3 separate regions of the Homo sapiens genome follow, and all the other regions are linked to region 2. The links come from fine-mapping of genetic effects on plasma protein levels. A gene starts in region 2. Each other region holds a variant in brackets. All regions are shown on one strand. Distances are from middle to middle.

Region 1 (2,763 bases), 62 kb after region 2:
TATGCCATGGTATATCTTTCGTTTAAATAAAATATGGAAAAGGTTATATTAATAAAGAAAAGAAAGAACTACATTGATAGAGAAACTAAAAACCATGTTTCATGAGGCTACATTTAGCACTCCTCTCTCTTGGTAGTGAGTAGTATTTTTAATGATGAATTTTTCACCATTAATTGTCTTTCTCCAAAGAAATGGAAAAAAGTAAAATATGTCTTTTTAGAGGGAATAGCTTCTCTCTTGGCCTCAATTTTCCTTTGCTTTTTTTCTCTTTCAAGCCTAGGAAAATTTCTAGGGCAGTCCAAACATCAGCTTGGGGAAAAAAGGTCATATTGCAGAGCTCTAGAGTTGGGAAAGAGACTTCCGAGTCTAAGGGAAATAACGGACGGCTCCTCGATTTTAATGCCCCACCTTCACCTGTTTCTCCCTCCAAAAAAGAAAATAAACAAATAAAAATAAAAGGAGACTGAAATTCATATACCTGAGAAAATAATTTGAAAACAAAATGCCATTAGAGGACACTAAATAAAATGTAAAAATAAAGAGAATTTATTCTTACATTTTGTGGTTGTGAATTTTAGTTTTCTTTATAAAATGTGATGAGTTTTGTTATTTGATTATACATACCGCCAGAAATTCTTTAAGACGGTCTTCAATGCTTCCTTTGTGAATTGTAAACAAAGCTGCAGCAATCTGGTTGATGGCTTTGGCCAAGCAATGTATGTTGTTGCAATGCCCTGAGAAAATGCAAATAGGGTTGTGTAGACCCCAAAATAGCAAATAATACATAGAAGGCAAATCTTTAATGACTTCACAATCTGCATAAATAGGGGCATAATTAAGAGTAGAGTTGGGACATGACCGGACTTGCTCTCCTTTGACTTTCATGAACACTGATGTTTTTAAAACTAGTTTAACAGGAGAGTAACAAACGATCGTGTATATGTTAAACAGGCAAACACTTCTGAAAACATCTAAAAGAAATCACACATCAGTTTTATAGTAGCTCGGAAATAAAAAGGAAGTGCTTAGCTGCTTTACAACATTTTACCATTCAATCCTTAAAATAATCCTATGAGTTGGATAATCCCTCACCGACCTCTACACACATTCAGGCACACATGAGCTTACTTACACACATTTCATATATCAGGAAACTGCAGTT[T/C]AGGAAAAGGGAAACAGACTACCCCATGTTCCACTGCCAGTTAGTGGCAGAACTTAACTCATATTTTATTATAAAATACCAAAACCCATGATTTATTCATCGCCAAAACAATTTTAAACCACTATTACCTTCTATAGCAGGGCTGTACTGAGACATCACATTACTGGCCAGTGTTGGCAAAGAAACTGCCACAAACACCATGAGAAGGCAGGCAATTTTATACTCTTCTTCTGGACTAATGTTTTCTAAGAGACAAAAATTAAGAATAAAATCAAGGTATTTCTTCAAGATTAGTTAAGATTTGATAATCTAAACTAAACAGATTTTTATTTTAAAAATGGTTTACTTTTTTTTTTGAAATAGTAAACTATTTTACTAGCATTCTATAGAATTGGTCACAATTTTGTTATAAAAATATAAAGTAGAAACAGTTTATATTACAATGGACTATTATCAACTACTTAGGCATATTTCAAGGACGTCTGATAAAACAGTAAGGTAAGATTTTATTTTTTTTAATTGTAAGATTATAGAACAAAAAATACAGTTAGGATAACTGCAATCCTACAATTTCCTAATTGAAAACTAATGAGGAATTATTACTTTATGAGACAGTTCTATTTACAATTTAGAAAACTTATAAATTATTCTGCAAAATCACCAAAAAAATCTTAATTACTTTTTGAAAGAGATATGAATATAATTTGAAATTTACTATTTAAAAGACATAAATGTGGAAAGTGGAATGGGTTTTCAACCTCTCTATTTTAGAAGACAGAAGAAACTAGTCATGAATAAAAGAAGACAGAAGAAGACAGAAGAAACTAGTCATGAATAAAAATACCCAGCATTGCTCTAAAGCTTTCAAGACATAACCCTTTCTAAAACATTTATTGTGATATGCACTCAAATTGTGGGTTATTTAGGCTACTAATCACCATTAGATATAATTAAGAATTGAATGTAAGAAAAGAGCTGAAATATGTTTTAAAGATTTGGTCGACTACAAAAAATACAGCTGTAGCAAATCAAGTAATAATTATAATTATCCATGTGACTAAATGTAACATACTGTATGAATGAGGAAACAAAATTGCATTGTTAAATGAAAAAAAAAAAAAAACTGATGAACTCAAACACCATGCTGCTGCCTCAAGGAGGCAGAAGGGGCATTTTAGTAGTAGAAAGAGATGAAATGCTATATTTACTTTGTAGACAAATCAAGAAATATCTACAGGATTCTGAGTACTGCATTTCTAAGGGCTGGTCTTAAAAATTTCTAAATGTTTTATATAAAACTCTTGATGGTGAATAACTCTAGTACAATAAAAACAGAATACCCTTTCCTAGATCTCAATTTTTTGCTATCTACTGGACCATCTCCCATTAGCATACAAATGCTGTAATCTCCTCCATCTTAAAAAAATCCTTCTCTTGACTTTGCTCTTGCCTCCAGCTGGTGAGATTTTATTTCTTTGCTTCCCTTTACAATAGAACTCTTTGAGTTGTCTTCTAGTTATCTCCAAATCCTTTCCTCCTGTTCTCCCTTAATCTCCCTTACTCACTACTCAGCCTTTTGCCCATAAAACCTCACTGACACT
Region 2 (2,763 bases):
AAGGTATTAAAGACAATTTTTTTTTCAAAACATGAGAGTGGAATAAGGGGTGAGATTTAAAATAACATTACGTGAGTGTATGATAACACGCCTTAAATATAACTCCTTTCATCTGTATGCCACTTATAAAATGACTTGAAGGCATGTGGGCATGTGAAAAGAGCTCAGTAATTTCAGTCTGCCAGCTCTATGGCAAGCCACAGAAGCTAATTAACAGTGCATAGCAATGTTTCACAATTGTTTCATTCTGGAATGGAAGAACAATTTATCTCATTGAAAGGAGGGGGAAATTTAAGGTGAAGGTAATTGCTCAAACTGGATCTTGAGCAAACACATACCCCTAACATCTGTCGGTTAGAGTAAGGTTATTGAAATTATCTTGGCATTTTTAATTAGAAGAAAATGGGGCTTCAGTTTTCTGTTTCCTCCACACAATCTTAACAAGCATCTAAGACACTAAAGATACAGAAACCTGATGACTGAGATTGCCTGAGAATCAGCAAAGAAAACCCAATGATTATAAACACATTTTAAAAGAAAAAGAGCATCACTTTACAAAATGTGGCTACTTGCACATGTAAGGAGTTGAAGTGAAGGATTCCTGTGGAGTAGAAGTGTGATGGGTTTGGAATGCATGGATTGTTTTAGAAAGATCGCCTATTGGAACACAGTGCCAGAGTGCATCAGTTTGGAAGGTGATAAGGTGAGGGTTTTTTTGTTTTTGTTTTTGAAAAAAGAAGAAAGAAGAAGAAGGGTCTTTGATAGAGGAGCAGTTATGGGAGAGATTAAGTGATCCGAAGAGAAAAAAATTAGAGAGTAAAGGCTAGTAACAAGGACTCCAAGAATTGAGGAGGCTGTAGGGTAAGGGAAGGGTGGGCCGTGTCAAAACTCACCAGCTCCGTCCGCAGTAACGATGGCCTCGGGAGAGATGCACACGCCCCTGTCGTACACTGGCAGCTCCTCGCAGGCCAGGTTCTCCGGCCACGAGTGGCGGTACTTGATGAGTATGGGCTCACAGCCCTGCCGGGCCCGCTCGCACACAGACTTACAGGGCTTGATGGGCTCGTGCTGGAAGTCAATGGTGCAGATGGGCGCGTACATGGCACAGAGGAAGAAGAGCAGATCGGGGCTGCAGTGGGTGCCCAGCAGACCTTCGAACTGCTCGATGGCCAGGATGGCGTTGGCCTGAGTGCTGTGGTGCAGGTGGTTGGGCATCTTAGTCATGTTCCAGGGCAGGGACTTGCACAGGGGGATGCGGACGGGCTCACAGGCTGCAGCCCGAGCCCCGGGCACCCGGAGCAGGCAGAGAGCAGCCAGGGCAAGCAGCCCGGCCCGCAGCAGCAGCATCCCTCCCGGGCTGCCGCAGACCATGATCCCGGCAGGATGGGGCAGGGTGCAGCCGCGCAGTGGACGCCAAAAGGCCCGCTCCGCCGTCTCCGCCTCCCCCGCTGCAAGTGGACACAAGGATCTGGGAGCTTCTCCTCCCCCGGCAATCACCGCTTCCTTGGATCAAATTCCCCCAATGGGGTCCCACGAGCTTTACCGAGCTCCAGCCACCGCCCCTGCCGCCCAGGCTGCTCTTTCCCAACGTCTAAGCCTTCGGAAGCAGCAACATCTATTTATTCCTCTCCCTCTGGCAGAAGCATCAGACTTCGCAGATCAGTCAGATAAGAGGGACACGAGAGGAGGCGAGGAAGACATAAAAACAAAAGTAGAATTCAGCTGAGAGCTAGTTGGAGCTCTGGGGTGTCTCCTCCCCTAGATCACGCACACAAAAAGATGCTAAAGAAAGCATTAAATTCCCCAAAGTGAGGAGGACAGAGGGGTTGGGGGGAAGGAGGGAGGAAAAGCTCCTAATGGGAGAGAAGGGTGCAGTAAGAGTTTACAAGTCCTGTGTGGGCTAAGAGCTGCGGCCGCCGCTGCGGCTGCGACCCTGGCTGGCAGGAGGGACGCTCAGGAGGAGCCCCGCAGGGACGTCTGTGCCTCTGCCCGGGCGGCTCTGCACTTTCCTACCTCCCGCCTGAGAGGGAGCTCCGCCCCTGGGGCAGTCTCTGCCCTCCAGTGCCGGCTGCTCTTCCCGAGAATGGAGTGGGCGCCCGGGGAAGAGAAGGCCTGGGAGTCGCAGGCGGTGGGGTGCGAAGCCGTGCGAGTGCGAGACCCCAAGACAGCGCCGAGTCGAGCGCGCCCTCACACTAGGGAACCCGTCTTTGGCCCCAGAAACGAGCCCCTAGCCCCTCACTGAAGAGCCCACCCCAATTCCCTACGGAAAAGTCCCCCTAGTTCCCCACTTGGGAACCCACCCGAGACCCTCCTTCCTGGAGGTATTTCCTTTAAGCAAACTACAGCTTTTCCTCTGCAATCACTGGCTCTGCAGAAAGTCAGACCTGGTGGGGGGAAAGGCTTAAGCAATGTCACTTTGTCCAAGTAGCGGAAAACACAGACCCCTGCGAGCAACGGTGGAGCCATATCAACCCAGAGCTAGTGACTACAGAGGTCTCCATTTTCAATAACTGCGGGGGAGGAGGTGGGGGGAGGATTGCCTTTAAAAAAAAAAAAAAAGAGAGAGAGAAACAAAGAAATGCTGTTCATGACTACAAATAGGCCACCAGAAGCAAGGAAAAGGGGTTTTTTCCTTCTATTCCCGCCCCCCCCACCTAGTGGAATTAGAACTCTTGAGCTTTGCTCCTTAAGGGTTAACGTGGAAACTAACAGCTCTAATACACTTGGACTTTTTTTTTCTGATTTTGCTCACGGATAACATGG
Region 3 (2,763 bases), 67 kb after region 2:
ATGCAAAATGACACACCCAATTTGAAAACAGTTTAGCAGTTCCTCAAAAGGCTAAACATACAGTTTTCATATGACCCTGCAATTCTCTCCTGGTATATATTCAAGAGAAATAATACACGTTCACACATTAAAAACTTGTACACGGATGTTCACAGTAGCAGTGTTTCTAATAGCTAAGAAGTGAAAACAACCCAGATGTCCATCAATTGATGTGAATAAACAAAATGTTGTATACCCATACAATGAAACATTATTCAACAATCATTAAAAAAAGTACTGATATATGCTGTAATATGTATGAATCCTGAAAATATGCCAAGTGAAAGAAGCCAGTATCAGAAGACTACACATGATGATTTATGTAAGTGTCCAAAGTAGGCTAATTTAAACAGAAAGTAGATTAGTCGTTGCCTAGGGCTGGGGATGGGGGAGAAGTGGAATGGGGAGTGACTGCTAATGGGTACAAGGCTTCTTTTTGGGGATGATGAAAATGTTCTAAAACTGACTTTAGTGATGGTTGAACAACTCTGTCACTACACTAAAAACCACTGAATTGTGCATTTTAAATGAGTAAATTTTCTGATAGGTGCGTTATAACTCAATAAAGCTGTTTAAAAACATGTTTTTGTTTTTTGTTGTTTTTTTTTTTAAAAGTTAAGTTCTATTGAAAGTTTGCTGGAAACTAAACATGATTATGTCAGGTGAAAAGTGAATGGTTGCTCAGAATATTAATTAGAATTCTTATAATTCTGCACATCAGTGTCTTCTCAAGAACTGATTAGTTTTTGTCTCCTTAACTTTATTTTTTCTGCAGTGTTTCCACTTAGGAAATCATTTTGAGCTATTTGTACATAGTTTTCAATCATAGAATCACAAGACAATCACTGATCTCAAATGTTTATTCTGCACAAAACACTGTAAGAGAAACAACAGCAACAACACCAAAAAAACAAAGTCTGGGTCTTCAAGATATATACCATTTGGTATAAATATAAGTAGAAAAATAGAATTATAATACAAGGCAGATTATATTCAACTCCACAGGAGATAAACAAGTTCTCTGATAACACTAAGAAAGAAGAAGTTCTTTATCATTGGAGAATCTAGGAATGGTTCTTAGAAAATGGCAATTGAATCAAGCCTTAAAATACAGGCAGGATTTCAAAAGGCAGAAAGAGAAAAGGTTGGTATTTTCAAGTAGAATAAATTAGAAGGTAAAACAGATAGATGTGAGAATGCAACAGAAAGATCTAGTTAGCTCACAGAATACCATATAAAAAGAGGGACAGAGTAAGAAAGAGAGTGAGAGAAGGAAGAAAGAAGTGGCAGAAGATAAGCCTCAAAAAGTTTGAGTGGCACCAC[A/ATT]TTTTTTTTTTTTTTTTTTTGGAGACGGGAGTTTTGCTCCTGTTGCCCAGGCTGGAGTGCAGTGGCGCAATCTCAGCTCACCACAACCTGCACCTCCTGGGTTCAAGAGATTCTCCTGCCTCACCCTCCCGAGTAGCTGGGATTATAGGCATGCACTGTCACGCCTGGCTAATTTTGTATTTTTAGTAGAGATGGGGTTTCTTCATGTTGGTCGGGCTGGTCTCGAACTCCTGACCTCAAGTGATCCACCCACCTTGCTCAGGTGATCTGCCCACCTCGGCCTCCCAAAGTGCTGGGATTAGAGTCTTGAGCCACCATGCCCAGCCTGAGTGGCACCAATTTCAGAAGAGTCTTGGTGTCATACAAAGGAGTTTAGACACTATTTTTTTCAGTCGGTGTTTTTCAAGATATGTGAAACAGAAACAATCTCTCTAAGAAATGTGTCAGCTTAGAAAACACAAATGTAAACCCCGATATATCACTTACTAGATGTATAACCACTGGTCAATCATTACTAGGATTAGATCAATAGTTGGATTTCATGGCTCAATAGATTTTCAAAACAAAAACTGTAAGCTCACAGAAGTCTGCCAACCTGCTGTTTTATATATATATTACATATAATAGAATACTAAAAATCTTTTTAAAATTACAGCCTACAATTACATCCTTTTATAAGAAATGACTTAACATCTATCTTAAACTTATTGAATTTCATTGTATTTAAAACGACTATTATTTCATTGCTTCATCTTTCTTTTTTTTTTGAGACGGAGTCTCATTCTGTTGCCCAGGCTAGAGTGTAGTGGCAAGGTCTCAGCTCGCTACACGCTCCGCCTCCCAGGTTCACACCATTCTCCTGTCTCAGCCTCCCGAGTAGCTGGGACTACAGGCACCCGCCACCACGCCTGGCTAATTTTTTTTTTTTTTTTGTATTTTTAGTAGAGATGGGGTTTCACCGAGTTAGCCAGGATGGTCTTGATCTCCTGACCTCGTGATCTGCCAGCCTCGGCCTCCCAAAGTGCTGGGATTACAGGCGTGAGCCACCGTGCCTGGCCACCTCATCTTTCTTAATTTTCTTTATCACCATGTATAAACAGCTATCCATTTAAGGAAAAAAAAAATCTATTTTTAGTCAATTTTGCATTGCTATAGGTGATCAAAGAAGACTGACTTTCAAAATGCCTAGGTAGTATTTTGGTGCTGAGCTCTCAAAGATTCAATTACAAAGGCAAGCATGCTAACTAACCACTCTAAACTAGAAACCTTACAGTAGTTTAGGATTTATTACATTTTCTTGCATATGTAATTTAAATATTTCGCTTTAGAGACTGTAAACCCCAACTATAAATTATATTATTACCTTCATATCAGTTTCCCTTGGAATGTGATCCTTAAAAT

What was found. A credible set is the group of variants that fine-mapping cannot tell apart. PIP is the posterior inclusion probability: the model's chance that the variant is causal. Sun 2018 read protein levels with aptamers (SomaScan).
Region 1: its variant is the best candidate, but not a certain one, in a credible set for the plasma level of the FRZB protein (Sun 2018, PIP 0.57).
Region 3: its variant is the best candidate, but not a certain one, in a credible set for the plasma level of the FRZB protein (Sun 2018, PIP 0.78).

What each region holds. Positions count from the first base shown.
Region 1 is chr2:182,927,493-182,930,255 of GRCh38, forward strand. NCKAP1 (NCK associated protein 1) reads right to left here. Exons shown (of 31, transcript NM_013436.5): 28 at 1,291-1,407; 29 at 625-734. Among named protein-coding and RNA genes, the nearest start is that of FRZB, 62 kb to the left of the region's middle. The variant T/C (reference allele first, on the strand shown) is at 1,163.
Region 2 is chr2:182,865,182-182,867,944 of GRCh38, forward strand. FRZB (frizzled related protein) reads right to left here and starts at 1,456. Exons shown (of 6, transcript NM_001463.4): 1 at 894-1,456. The coding sequence starts at 1,371. RefSeq lists an enhancer at 619-1,587.
Region 3 is chr2:182,932,027-182,934,789 of GRCh38, forward strand. It overlaps NCKAP1 (NCK associated protein 1), which reads right to left. Exons shown (of 31, transcript NM_013436.5): 26 at 2,726-2,763. Among named protein-coding and RNA genes, the nearest start is that of FRZB, 67 kb to the left of the region's middle. The variant A/ATT (reference allele first, on the strand shown) is at 1,363.